Homo sapiens: one gene and its partner. The protein of the gene in region 1 purifies or fractionates together with the protein of each later gene. This does not show direct contact. Each region holds a gene or a part of one and is shown on either strand. Other genes may lie near its edges. The genes, in order: DELE1 and EIF2AK1.

Region 1 (7,681 bases):
AAGGAGTCAGGGAAAGCCTGTCTGTGGGGGTGACGTGTGGGCTAAGGCCAGAAGAAAAGGCACCAGCATTGTGAAGAACAGAGACAAGTATCCATGGTACTGAGGACAGCTTGCGTGCAGACCCTTTCATATGAGCAGTAGTGACAGAGCACAGGGATGGCATTGGGACTTCTGGAATCCAGGCCCACTTCCTACTTCTCACTATGGGACAGCCCTAGGGCTCAGATCTTCTTTGGCAACATGGGAAAATGCTCCTCTCTTCAGGGTATGATATGGCCTTAGTCCACAGCTCCCCATAGAGGGGTAACCCTGTCATGGAGACATCCCAGGCTCAGCTCTGCTGATGACACCAATTTACAGATGAGAAAGCCAAGGGTCACACAGGTCAAGTCATTTGTCCAAAGTACACAGCACGAAAGCAGCAGGGATGAGCTGTGACAAACATGAGAGTGATGTGTGTGTCAACTTCATTCAGAAGATCTTATAAGCAGAACTTCCACCTGGAACATTGCCTGAAAAGCGAAGACTCTGCCCTATGAGACCTAGTGTTCACTAGTAAGAATCTGACCTTATAGATCAGGTTCAACAAATATTTTTGAGCAACTATTACGGGCTAGGCTCTGTATTTGATGCAGCAACCAAGCAGTAGAACATGAACTCCAGAGTTAAATCTGGCTCCTCCACTTAACAGGTATGAGACCCTACGCATGTTACCTAATATTTCAGAGCCTGAGATTCCTCAGCTGTAAAATGAAGGTGATATTTCCCTTGTAAGATTTTTGTAAGGATTACACAAGATAATGCATGTATAATACTTTACATTAATAAATAATGCTATAAGGCCGGGCGCGGTGGCTCACAGCTGTAATCCCAGCACTTTGGGAGGCCGCGGTGGGTGGGTCACGAGATCAGGAGTTCGAGACCATCCTGGCCAAAATGGTGAAACCCCGTCTCTACTAAAAACACAAAAATTATCCAGGCGTGGTGGCACGTGCCTGTAATCCCAGCTACTTGGGAGGCTGAAGCAGGAGAATTGCTTGAACCCGGGAGACGGAGGTTGCAGTGAGCCAAGATCATGCCGCTGCACTTCAGCCTGGGCGACAGAGAAAGACTCTGTCTCAGAAAAAAATAATAATTTAAAAATAAAAAAAATGAATAATAAAAAAAAGATGCAATGTATTATTATTTATTGTAAGATCCATGAAGGCAAGAATGTATCTATCTTGTTCTCTGCTATGTCCGTAGTGACTAGCAAAAATGCCTGGCCCAGACAAGGTGTTACATAAATGTTTACTGAATTAAATGAGGAAAACATACATGGCGGGGGTGTGGAAAGTGGCAATATCTCCTTGAATATGCTCCAATACCATGGGTTACTTGTTAAATGGACACAGTGATTCCCTAGCCCTTGTTCCAGGTTCGGCTGTATACCCATGAAGGATCATTCTCATCTACACTGAAGGTCAAGGACCAGGCTGGGGAAGCCTTACCCAAGATATGGCATCCCATAGGGTGTTCGGGGAGACACGGGAAGACATCCATTGGAAGGCATCCTTCCATCCATGGGACCTTGGACCCCCGCTCGTGCCTGGGCCATGGGGACCTGACCTAGATGATGAAATAAGAGGCTATCAAGTAGGGGCAAAGGGAGACCAGGGACTGGGTGCGGTGGCTCACACCTGTAATCCCAACAATTTGGGAGGCTGAGGTGGGTGGATCACGAGGTCAGGAGTTCAAGACCAGCCTGGTCAAGATGGTGAAACCCCATCTCTACTAAAAATATAAAAATTGGCTGGGTACAGTGGCTCACACTGTAATCCCAGCACTTTGGGAGGCTGAGGCGGGCAGATCATGAGATCAGGAGATCAAGACCATCCTGGCTAACATGGTGAAACCCCGTCTCTACTAAAAATACAAAAAAAATTAGCCAGGCGTGATGGTGCATGCCTGAAATCCCAGCTACTTGGGAGGCTGAGGCAGCAGAATCGCTTGAACCCAGGAGGCGGAGGTTTCAGTGAGCCAAGATCGCGCCACTGCACTCCAGCCTGGGCGACAGAGCGAGACTCTGTCTCAAAAAAAATAAAATAAAATAAAAATTAGCAGGGTGTGGTGACGGGTGCCTGTAATCCCAGCTACTCGGGAGGCTGAGGCAGAGAACTGCTTGAACCTGGGAGGCGGAGGTTGCAGTGAGCTGAGATTGCCCCACTGCACTCCAGCCTGGGCGACAGAATGAGACTCCATCTCAAAAAACAACAAAAAAAAAAAAATAAAAAAAAAGGGTGACTAGGGGAGGAAATGAGTGGTAAAATGGCAGTATCTTACCTGTCGAGGTTAGGCACAGGAACCAGCAAAGTGGAGGAGGTAGTCTGAGGCCCATCTGGGCTGGTGGACTTAGGAGTCACCCTCCAGAGGCTAGGTCCCAGTGTACGGGGAAGAGCTGTACAGAACAACCAAAACTCAGGCACCTCAACAAGAACCCAGGAATCACTGTCATCTGCCTCAGCAGAGGTTCTTAAACATGGATACACATGGGAATCTTTTATCTACTACAGATTCTAGGGTAGTACCCCAGAACCAATAAACTAAGATTTCTCAGGGTAGAGCATCCACGTTTTTTAAAAGCGCCCATGTGATTCTGCTGGTCTCCTGTGGATGCCAACCACTGTTCTAAGATGACCAAACGTTCATACATATACTCTCACTAATGTTTGGGGCTCTTTGACTCTAAACCTCTCCTCTCTTCACTGGCTATGCCTACTCCATTGGCCCCTAATCCTCTTTCATTCATTCAGTCCACCATCTCCTGCCATTGGACTCCTCCCCCTCCCAACAGTCCTACCAACTTCTTGGACTCCACCCTCTTCTAGCTAGGCCCATCCACATCTCAAATTCCAGCAGCCCCTGACTTCCCCGCCCTCTTTCAAGCCCCGCCTTCCTTGGCTCTAACCCGGCCCACGATCGCTTCGGCTGTTTCCTCGGGCCCGCCCCCACTCCAGTTCGGTCTTTGCGGCCCAGAGTGACGCTGGTTGCTTGGACGTCCCTTACCTCGGCCCAGGAGTCCCGGGAGGCGCCACATGTCGCTGCCAGCACCACAGAGAGCTCGCAGCCGAAAGCGCGAGACCAACCCTTGGGACAGCGGCTAGAAAGGCCGCCGCGATGCCCCGAGTGGCCGAGTACCCGAGGAAGCTCTGAGCTGGCCAATTAGAAGGGAGCCCGGCCGGAAAGACGGCGCTGCAGAGAGGAAGTGCAGGGCGGAGGCGTATTCGGGGCCAGCGGGGCGGTGACGTGCGGCAAGGGCATGGGGATGTGGGCCCAGGCTTCCGTGGGGGATGTCCTTGGCGTTCCCAAGCCGAGGCAGGGGACCGCAGGTGGCGAAGCGAGCCACCCGGAAGCGGGACCTTCGGGAAGTGGGGCTGGAGCGGCTTCAGGGAAGTAAGAGGACCTTGCAGACCGTGAGGCCGCGAACCAGGAAAGGCTTCTCCAGGCCCTAGGCTTGAGGAAGTGGGAGTAACCAGGCTCCATGGGCGGAGGAGAGGACCCCCGGGGTCCCACAAATGAAGCCAGTAGGCCGGGCTTCCGTCCAAGGCCACCTGCCTGGAGATGCCAGGCCAGGGCCCGACTGCGTAGGCGATGAGAAACCGCACAGGGCAAGGCTTTGATTCTGGGTTCTAGCTCCGGTCCAGCTTTATCTCACTGTGCAGCTTCATGCCAACCCCTTACCTTGTCGGGGCCCCAATACGCGCCAGATAGGGTCAAATGGAATGACTGGCCTGACAAGCTGAGATTCTTGGGTAGCTCCTTTCAAAATACCTGAGACACCACCCGCGCCCTATTAGAACCCTCGTCTTCAGACGTGGCAAAAGTTATGTATGTGTTTGTTCTTTTGTGGAAAAGAATAGTTCCGTCTGGTCCCGGTGGCTCACGCCTGTAATCCCAGCACTCTGGGAGGCCGAGGCGGGCGGATCACCTGAGGTCAGGAGTTTGAGACCAGCCTGGCCAACATGGTGAAACCCTGTCTCTACTAAAAATACAAAAATCAGTTGCGCGTGGTGGTGGGCGCCTGTAATCCTAGCTACTCTGGAGGCTGAGGCAGGAGAATTGCTTGAACACGGGAGACGGGAGGTTGCAGTGAGCCGAGATCGCGCCTGGGCGACAGAGTGAGACTCCATCTCAAAAAAAAAAGGAAAAAAAAATAGTTCCTTTCACCACATTTGAATCCGTGAAATAACGGAGCTTACATTCAAGTATAAGATGTTTAGATTTCCTCCCTATCCCCTTCCTCCAGGTATGTGACTTTAAGGTGAGTGGAAGTTGCTACCTGGGGTAAAAGTGTACTGGGGGCACCTACTTTTAGACCGAGGCATGTGGCTTGAAAGTTGTATTAATATGTTAGACAACTTTTTTTTTTCTTTTGAGACGGATTCTCTGTCGCCCAGGCTGGAGTGCAATGGTGTGATCTCGGCTCACTGCAACCTCTGCCTCCCAGGTTCAAGCGATTCTCTTGCCTCAGCCTCCCAAGTAGCTGAGATTACAGGCGCCTGCTACCACATCCTGCTAATTTTTGTATTTTTAGTAGAGACAGGGTTTCACCATGTTGGCCAGGTTGGTCTCGAACTCCTGGACCTCAGGTGATCCTCCTGCCTTGGCCTTCCAAAGTGCTGGGATTACAGGCTTGAGCCACCGTGCCTGGCCGTTAAAGAACTTTTGAGCCATATATCAGCCCGTTCTAGGATCTGAGAAGACAGCTGAGGAAAGAGCATTTGTGGCCTCCAGGAACACGGTCCAGTGGATTAGTAGTGGGCTTTGGAGTCCCACAAATCTGGGTTGGAATCACAGCTTGCTTACTTCGTAGGTATGTTATCTTGTGCAGGTTCCTTAACCACACTAAGTCTCAAGAGCTTCATCCGTAAAATAGGGAAAATACCTCATGCAATTGTTGTGAGGTTTAAATAAAATAATATGTTAAAAATGTTTAACTTGGTGTTTTGGGAATACCCTTCAAAAAATAAAAAATAAATAAATAAAAATGTTTAGCATAGTTCCTGGCACATAGTAAAAGCCCAGTAAGTGTAAGTTGCTATTAATTATATTAGTAGGGGAGGTAAGCAGGCAAGTGTAATAGGTTAGGTTCCCATAGAAGCATGAACAATGGATTGTGGGATCCCTTGGAAGGCTTCAGAAAAGTAGTTGCATTTGAGCGGGGCCTTTAAATGTGAATAAGAGCTTGCCAGGTGGAGAAGGAAGAAAGGCATTGCAAGCGGAGGAAACAATAAATAAAGGCCCAGAAGTTTGAATGTTGGACAACTATTCAGAAATAGCCTTGCTTCGGGATTTGGGACGGCAACCTTTCACATTCCTTGTGTTGCTGTCCCGAAAATAAAGTAACAAACAAGTATGCTGGTTTGGCTGTGTTCTTCCTCCTGCGTCTTTTGTACCCTCCTTCCTTTCAGACTATCCATAGTTTGTGTCATTTCTCAAGGTTCAGCCCAATCCCAGCTCTTCAGTGTAGACTCCTCAACTGTTTGAGCCCTCCCTGCTCCCTACTTTTCCCAATTCCTATAGCACTTAATTTCTTACTACACAGTTTAGCAGTAATTATATGCTGTCTTGGTATTTATCTCATTTGTGTAACTCTAGCCTTCCCAGTTCTCTCCTTTCAGGACAGGAATAGCATTTCCCTATTCCGTGTCCCACATAGGGCTTGACATAAATTGTCAGCCCAAAGAATATGTCCAAACAATCCCTGTTGACAGAACATCTTGTACTAATGATTATTACAGCCAAGGGTACCAGACCCCAGCCAGGGGATTTACTGATTTGAGTGGAAATGTATTCATTGCAGATACAAACATTCATTGAGGGCCCTCCCTGTTTGAAGCTAGTTGAAAAGTTTTGAAGGAGAGACTAGGACATCTGCCCCCATGTATAGAATGGCATTATGGCATCTCTTGTCCCCATAAACAGAAACATCAGACCACTTGTGTGAGGGTAGATGGCGAGGGTGGCTGGAGCCCACAGCAGATCACCTGTTGAGTGCAGCTCACGGGAGTGCTGTTGGTTGAATGGCAGCTGCCTCAACTGCCAGACCCCAAACTCTGTGGTTTTGGATTGTGGCTCAGTCCCTCTACACAGTCCCTCAAGTTGACTCAATCCTCCACAAAGGTAAACTGACACTGGGAACCTATTGCCTGCTGTCCAGTTAATCACCTTTCATGATGACTACACATGCCATTGTGTACTTTGTGTACTGTCACTACAGTGAGTATTCTAGATACTTGTTGCCTTCATTTTTGTAGGCATTCTTAATTTGCATTAATCAAATATATGACAGCTTATTTAGTGCTAAAGGATATGCTAAGTATATAACAATTTTAAAACATGGATGTGGGCAGGGCGCAGTGCCTCACGCCTGTAATCCCAGCTCTTTGGGAGGCCGAGGTGGGTGGTTCACGAGGCCAGGAGTTCAAGACCAGCCTGGCCAACATGGTGAAACCCCATCTCTACTAAAAAAAATACAAAAAATTAGGCGTGGTGGTGCGCATCTGTAATCCCAGCCATTTGGGAGGCTGAGGCAGAAGAATCACTTGAACCCAGGAGGCAGAGGTTGCAGTAAGCTAAGATCGCACCATTGCACTCCAGCCTGGGCGACAGAGCAAGACTCTGTCTTGAGGAAAAATTAAAACAAAACAAAACAAAACATGGATGTGGTCCTTGCCCTCACAGAAAATAGCCTAGGAGTGCAAACAAAGTCAGTAAGCAATTAAAATACAGAGTGGTGTTTTAGTTACTTATTGCAGCATAACAAACACCCCAAAATTGAGTGGCTTAAAACAATCATTATCTCTCACAGTTCTGCAAATTGACTGGGCTCAGCTGGGCAATTCTGCTGGTCTCACTTGGGGTCTCTCATGAGGTTGTAGTCAGATGGCAGTCATATGAAGACTCAAGTAGGGCATTGGAAAGGCTGGGCCTCTTTCTCCATGTAGTCTCAGGTCCCCTCTGCGCCACATGACCTCTCCAGCTGTGTCGCTGAACTTCTTACACAGTGGCTCAGAGCTTCCAAAAGTACACAAGTGGAAGCTGGCAGGAACTGGCATAGCATCACTTCTGCACTCTGTTGGTTAAAGCAACTCACAGGGTCAGCCCAGAATCAGTGTGGGAGGGGAAAACATAAGGTCACAAATACTGGGAAGTAGACTTTGGAGACAAGCAAGTGCTGTTGTGAAGAAAGTACAGAGTGCTATGGGAACACCCAGGGAAGGCCCATAACCTAGGCATGGAAGTCAGGAAGACTTCCTGGAAGCAGTGATGCTAAATTAACCTGAATGATGAGGCCTGGAAACTAACCAGGTGAAGAAGAGGAAAAGAAACCCAGTTCAGGCAGGGGACACAGCTGACTGATACAAAGTTCCAGAAAGGCAAAGAAAGCACAGTTTAAGATCACTGTAGCTGGAGCCGGGAGGGAGGCATGGAGTCATGGCGATGGGGTGGTGATAGGCCTTTAGTCTGGAGAGGTAAATAGCGCAAGGTCATAACGCCTTGTAAGCCCGTAAAACATTTGGACTCTGTCCTGAAGGCACGAGACATCTAGGAAGGGTTTTGGCAAGGGAGTGACCAGGCCAGAGGGATCCAAGAAAGGCTATTGGCTGCTGTATTAGTGGGGGTCAAGCCCTCATTTTCA
Region 2 (7,274 bases), on another chromosome or scaffold:
CAACAAAAATAATAAAAAATAGGCCAGGTGCAGTGGCTCACAACTGTAATCCCAGCACTTTGGGAGGCCAAGGCAGGCAGATCACCTGAGTTCAGGAGTTTGAGACCAGCCTGGCCAACATGGCAAAACCCCGTCTCTGCTAAAAATACAAAAATTAGCCAGGCATGGTGGTGCAGGCCTATAATCCCAGCTTCTAGGGAGGCTAAGTCAGGAGGATCGCTTAAACCTGGGAGGCAGAGGTTGCAGTGAGCTGAGATCACATCACTGCACTCCAACCTGGGCGACAGAGCGAGACTCCATCTCAAAAAAAAAAAAAAAATACCGACAGGAAATATCTGAAAGGAAGAAATAATTTAACATTTTGTAACGGAAATAAGCAAAGTCTAAAACACTCCTCCTGAGCTCCTTGTAGCAAAAGACAAAGATAGCCCAGTGCAGGCCAGGTGCAGTGGCTCACGCCTGTAATCCCAGCACTTTGGGAGGCCGAGGTGGGCACATCACGAGGCCAGGAGATCGAGACCACCCTGGCTAACACGGTGAAACCCCGTCTCTACTAAAAATACAAAAAACTAGCTGGGTGTGGTGGCGGGCACCTATAGTCCCAGCTATTCGGGAAGCTGAGGCAGGAGAATCACTGCAACACAGGAGGCGGAGGTTGCAGTGAGCCAAGATTGTGCCACTGCACTCTAGTCTGGGTGACAGAGCGAGACTCTGTCGCCAAAAAAAAGAACAAAAGCCCAATGCAGGTGACAAGAGGTAATGTCCTAATATGTAAAAGGACATACCTGTCCTCTTCCTGGTCGGAGAGCACTTCCAGAGATGGCAACTCAATGGCAGCTCTGTCTGCTGAATGAAAACAAACAACAATCATCTTCAAACAGCCCAGTTTTTCAAATTGTAGTCAAAGACAGAGTTAAAATATACAAATAGTGTCAAATGAGACTACAAGTCTAAAAATGTCATGACCTTCTGGCAAAATACAAAAAGTTTATTCAAATGGCACGTGTTAGGAACCGTAAAAACAAAGCCATGCAACTATACGAGGGGTCAGCAAACAGCACAGAGGACTTGACAGTAAATATTTTAGGTTTTAGGGCCCTCTGGGACTCTGCTGTAACTGAACAATTCTGTTATGGTATAAAAGCAGCCATAGGCCCAGTGGCTCATGCCTGTAATCCCAACTCTTTGGGAGGCCGAGGCTCGAGGATCACTTGAGCTCAGGTGTTTAAGAACAGCATGCACAATATAGTGAGATTCCTCATCTCTATTTTTAAAACAAAATTTAATGTAATTTTTTTTTTGAGGCAGTCTCGCTCTGTTGCCCAGGGTGGAATGCATTGGCACGATCTTGGCTCACTGCAACCTCCACCTCCCGGGTTCAAGTGATTCTGCTGCCTCAGCCTCCCGAGTAGCCGGGACTACAGGTGCTCACCACCATGCCCACCTCATTTTTGTATTTTTATTAGAGATGGGGTTTCACCATATTGGCCAGGCTGGTCTCGAACTCCTGACCTTGTGATCCTCCTGCCTCGGCCTCCCAAAGTGTTGGGATTACAGCCATGAGCCACACTGCCCCCAGCTAACTTTAAATTTAAAAAGCAGCCATAGACAATATATAAATGAAGAGCCTGTGTTCTAATAAATTTTATTTATTGATATTTAAATTTTGGGCCAGGCACAGAGGCTCATGCCTATAGTCCCAGCACTCTGGGAGGCCGAGGCAGGTGGATCACTTGAGGTCAGGAGTTCAAGACTAGCTTGGGCAACATGGTGAAACCCTGTCTGTACTAAAAATACAAAAATTAGCCAGGCGTGGCGGCACACACCTGTAATCCCAGCTACTCGGGAGGCTGAGGCAGAAGAATCACTTAAGCCCAGGAGGCAGAGGTTGCAGTGAGCAAAGATCGCGCCACTACACTCCAGCCTGGGTGACAGAGCGAGACTCTGTCTCAAAAAAAAGAAAAGAAAAAAATAATTTCACATAATTTTCACAAAATCTTCTGATTTTGTTTAACTATTTAAAAATGTAAAAACCAACCAGGCGCGGTGGCTCATGCCTGTAATCTCAGCACTTTGGGAGGCCGAGGCGGGCGAATCACGAGGTCAGGAGATCGAGACCATCCTGGCTAACACGGTGAAACCCTGTCTCTACTAAAAAATACCAAAAAAAAAAGTTAGCTGGCCGTGGTGGCGGGCACCTGTAGCCCCAGCTACTCAGGAGGCTGAGGCAGAAGAATGGTGTGAACCCAGGAGGCGGAGCAGCCTGGGCGACAGAGTGAGACTCCGTCTCAAAAAAAAATATGTAAAAACCATTCTCAGCTTGTGGTATGTACAAAAACAAAGGCAGGCCAGATTTGGTGCACGGGCTAAAGTTTGCCAACGCTTCAACTACCATACCATCAAAAACGGCTTACCTCGTGGCTGAATCACATGAACATGTTCTATCCACGCGGTGTGATAGCCAACAATATTGGGGTGCTGAAGACCTGCCAGCACCTTCACTTCCCGTAGGACCTAGAAAAGAAATGGAAGTAGATCTGCCTTTTGCTGATAACTTGTTAAATGTTTATGCAATACTTCTTGTTCCAGAGCAAAATACAGATGGCCCCTGACTTACAATGGTATGAAGACATCACAATTTTTGACATACTTTGAATTTTGATCTTTTCTCCAGCTTGCAGTATGCGGTGCATGAGATATATGGTATTTTATTATAAAATATGCTTTGTGCTAGATGATTCTGTCCAACTATTGAGTAATGTAAGTGTTCGAAGCACATTTAAGGTAGGCAGGGTAAGCTATAATGTTCGGTAGGTTATGCATATTAAAATGCATCTCCAATTTACAATATTTTCAATTTATGATGGGTTTATCAGGACATAATCCCATCATAAGATGGAGGACCATCTGTAATGAAAACTCCTCTGTACAAGGCATCTACACTATGTTAAAATAATAGAAATTTTTTTTTTTTTTTTGAGACAGAGTCTCACTCTGTTGCCCAGGCTGGAGTGAAGTGATGCCATCTTGGCTCACTGCAATCACTTTGCTGGGTTCAAGTCATTCCTGTGCCTCAGCCTCCCGAGCAGCTGGGATTACAAGCATGCACTACCACACCCAGCTAATTTTTGTGTTTTTAGTAGAGACAGGGTTGTGCTATGTTGGCCAGGCTGGTCTCACACTCCTGGCCTCAAGTGATCTGCCTGCCTTCGCCTCCCAAAGTGCTGGGATTACAGGCGTGAGCCACTGCACCTGGCCAATATAATGGAAATATTTTTAAGAAACAAATGGCAATTGTTATAGCAACTAAATAACATATTTATAGGGCATTTTATACTTTTTATGGCACACTTATCACCATTCTCTCTTTTGATTCCTACCCCAGTCCTCCAAGGTAAGTAAAATCACTACCGTCACTACTATTTCAGGGCAGGTGACAGAAGTGGCTCAGAGGACTGGACAACTCGTCCAGAACCACACAGCATGTCAGGGAGAAGACTGACCTGGAACTGGGCTCCTGTTTTTTCATAACTAGCTATATTATATATCGATCATTTATTTTAAGAAGTTAACATATTTTAAAAATTATATATATATATATATATAAATTAGCCAGGCATGGTGGCAGATGCCTGTAATCCCAGCTACTTGGGAGGAAGGAGAATCCTTGAACCCTGCGGGGCGGAGGCTGCAGTGAGCCGAGATCACGCCACTTTACTCCAACCTGGCCAAAAGAGTGAAACTCCATCTCAAAACAAAAAATAATAATAATTTAATTTTGGTACTTTACTATAACCCCATTCCTAGTAAACTGGAAATCCACACCGCCTACTTTTGCCAAATATACACATATACATGTATAACTCTTTCAAAAAGAACTAAATACACAATTATTCAAAATAAGTAATTTTTAAAAATCATACCTTCATGCAAACTGTTTTAGTTGCACCCTTAATCAGGATTTTTTTTATTGCATAATACTGACCATCTAATTTATTCCTGACCTGAAAAGTAGAAAAAAAGACAAAGTATATTGTGTCATTAAACTTTAACTGAATAAAGAGGTTCTTTTAATCTGAGCTTAGACAATCCAAACTAGCCAAAGAGGTAAAATATAGCTAAAGACATGTCTCCTTACTATGTTCAGGGAAGTCAGCCGGACTAAGAGCTTTTCAGATAGTGTTGGAAGTCTAGCTCCTAAGAAGCTCTAGGCTGAAGAACGGGAATGTTAGCAAAAGGTGTATGTTAGCTCAAAACACAGTAGTACAACTTTTTTTGGTAACACATTTTTTAATTAAAATTAACTATAGGTCAAAAATTCAAAGTTTCCAAAATCCATGTAAACAATCAACACGGTTAGAAAAACATTACAAACTGCCCACTTCCCTGTACATGACAAATGTTAAAGAAAAGTAAATATACAAGATTTCTTGGAATTTTCCTTTGAGTACATTATATAATAATAATGAAAACAGGCCGAGCACGGTGGCTTATGCCTGTAATGCCAGCACTTTGGAAGGCCGAGGTGGGTGGATCACGAGGTCAGGAGATCAAGACCATCCTGGCCAACACGGTGAAACCCCGTCTCTATTAAAAATACAAAAATTAGCTGGGTGTAGTAGCACATGCCTGTAATCCCAGCTACTCGGGAGGCTGAGGCAGAAGAATCGCTTGAACCAGGGAGTCAGAGGTTGCAGTGAGCTGAGATTGCGCCGCGCACTCCAGCCTGGCGACAGAGCGAGACTCCATCTCAAAAAAATAAATAAATAAAAGAATAATGAAAACAATATCTGAAAACACAATTATTTAGGGTAGTAGGTCAAAACAAGTACGTGGAAGACAACCTTGTATACTCTTCCGTATCCACCTTTTCCTAAGATGGCAAGTTCTTCAAATTCATTTAAGTAACGTGAAGTTTGTGCTTCCAAGGCTACTTCCCTTGATCTGAAAGTTAAATACAAACAATCAATATTAAAACATGAGAGAATCAAAATGTTCTAGGATACCTCATGCTCACAGGATTACTAACCTCACAAACCTCATGTATCACTAAGCTGTGCTGATTTGGAAAGGATGGGCTAAAATGAAATTTTTCATCCCTATGAAGAAAACAAAATCAGGTGTTTTACCAGTAACGGGTATTCCAAGTAGAAATTATTACCGATGTTGTACAGCAGAAATCCTAAGAATCACTAACAGCCAGCAGTTGGTTAGCTAAGCTCAGAAATAAATTTACTGAAATTTCAGCTGGGCATGGTGGCTCACGCCTGTAATCCCAGCACTTTGGGAGGCCGAGGAGGGCAGATCATGAGGTCAGGAGTTCAAGACCAGCCTGGCCAACATGGTAAAACCCCGTCTCTAGTAATAATTCAAAAATTAGCCGGGTGTGGTGGCGGGTGCCTGTAATCCCAGCTACTCCGGAGGCTGATGCAGGAGAATTGCTTGAACCCAGGAGGCAGAGATTGCAGTGAGCCGAGATTATGCCACTGCACTCCAGCCTGGGTGACAGAGCAAGACTCTGTCTCAAAAAAAAAAAAAAATTACTGAAATTTCTTTTTTATTTATTTTTCTTCTAAGACAGGGTCTTGCTGTGTTGCCCAGGCTAGATTGCAGTGGCTATTCACAGGTGTGATCCTGCTACTGAGCAGCACCAGAGTACTGACCTGCTCTGTTTCCAACCTGGGCTAGTTCACTCCTCCTTAGGCAACCTGGTGGTCCCTTGCTCCTGGGAGATCAAGGTCACCATACTGATGCCAGACTTAATGTGGACACCAGACTGGCATAGTGCACTACAGCCCAGGACTCCTGGGCTCAAGCAGTCGTCTTGCCTCAGCCTCCCAAGTAGCTGGGACTGGGTATGCACCACCATAAGCAGCTTCTTAAATTTCTTAATGATGTAGACCAATTAGATTTTTATTTTAATGTAGAGTGCTTTATCAAGATATAATTCACATACTGTCAAATTCACCTCTCTCAAATGTACAATTCAGTGGTTTTTAGTACATAAAGTTGTGCAACCATCACTGCTACCTAATTTCAGAATATTTTCATCACCCCCAAAATAAACCCTATATCCATTAGCTTTCACTCCCCATCCTTCCCTTACCCCACTCCCTGAAAACCACTATTTACGTCTCTATGGATTCACCTACTCTGGATATTTCATAGAAATGAAATCACACAATATGTGGCCTTTTATGACTGGCTGTTTTTACTTAGGATGTTTTCAAGATTCATCCATATTGTAGCATGAATCCGTACTTCATTCCTTTTAATAGCTGAATAACACTTTATTGCAGGGATAGACCACATGCTTATCTATTCATGGGCTGATGAATATTTAGGTCAGACCAGTTAGATTTTAAACTAGTATTTAAACTAGCGAGAATTCAATGGTCCCCCTAACAGAGCCTGGGTATCAGGAATCTGAATTAACAGTGTGACCATGGAATCCACACTCAGTGGCGAGAGGCAGGGGATCAAAGAGGAGGGAATAAGAAGCAAAGCAAGTCTCAGAGCAGTACTTAATTGCTGAGAACAAAGTTTTTAATGTTCATAAATAATACTAACAATATTATGTTTTAACCTCAAATCAGTATTTTCTTAATTTTGATTTCTTTTCAATAGTCTGCATAATCAAGAAAGTTTTTCACACATACCTGATTTTCTGGATACGAGAAATATCCTCACAAGGATCCTACAATTAAAAAATTGTTTTTAAAAAGCATTTTGAAAACTTGCATGGAATAAAGAACCTATCAAAATTCAATATCACATTAACAACCCCAAATGCATAAACAATATTTTAAAAACCACTGGCTTTTTCAGTATTACTTAAGAGTTTACAACTGAAAATACTTCAAAGCTGAGAACAGACCAGCAAGCAGACAAGACTGACGTCACCTTCAAAATCCATGCAGGAGCTCCCCACCCCTCCTGCCTGCCCACCTCTCTCGCGTGTATGGTGGCACCTGGCACCCTGCTTCTGCCCGTGCCCCCTCAGTCCATTCGCAACACAGCAGCCAGTGTGACCCCACTAAAATGTAAGTCAGATTGTGTCACTCCTCTAATCAAAATCCTGTACCACCTCCCATCTTACTAAAAACCATAAATTAGGTAGGGCGCGGTGGCTCACGCCTGTAATCCCAGCACTTGGGAGGCCAAGGCAGGCACATCACGAGGTCAGGAGTTCGAGACCAGCCTGGCCAACATGAAGAAACTCTGTCTCTACTGAAAATACAAAAAATTAGTTGGGTGTGGTGGCAGGTGCCTGT

Evidence for each region.
Region 2: the proteins of DELE1 (region 1) and EIF2AK1 purify together in Homo sapiens (affinity purification with mass spectrometry; 3 studies listed by BioGRID and IntAct, with this or other methods). This does not show direct contact.

Annotation. Positions count from the first base shown.
Region 1 is NC_000005.10:141,919,337-141,927,017, reverse strand, and holds the start of DELE1 (death ligand signal enhancer precursor), read right to left. Parts: upstream 3,148-7,681; 5' UTR 3,077-3,147; coding exon 3,046-3,076; intron 2,438-3,045; coding exon 2,323-2,437; intron 1,609-2,322; coding exon 1,491-1,608; intron 1-1,490.
Region 2 is NC_000007.14:6,042,148-6,049,421, forward strand, and holds part of EIF2AK1 (eukaryotic translation initiation factor 2-alpha kinase 1), read right to left. Parts: intron 6,698-7,274; coding exon 6,660-6,697; intron 4,945-6,659; coding exon 4,845-4,944; intron 4,208-4,844; exon of another isoform or gene 4,139-4,207; intron 4,005-4,138; coding exon 3,924-4,004; intron 2,515-3,923; coding exon 2,415-2,514; intron 847-2,414; coding exon 786-846; intron 1-785. UniProt on the Homo sapiens protein: Metabolic-stress sensing protein kinase that phosphorylates the alpha subunit of eukaryotic translation initiation factor 2 (EIF2S1/eIF-2-alpha) in response to various stress conditions.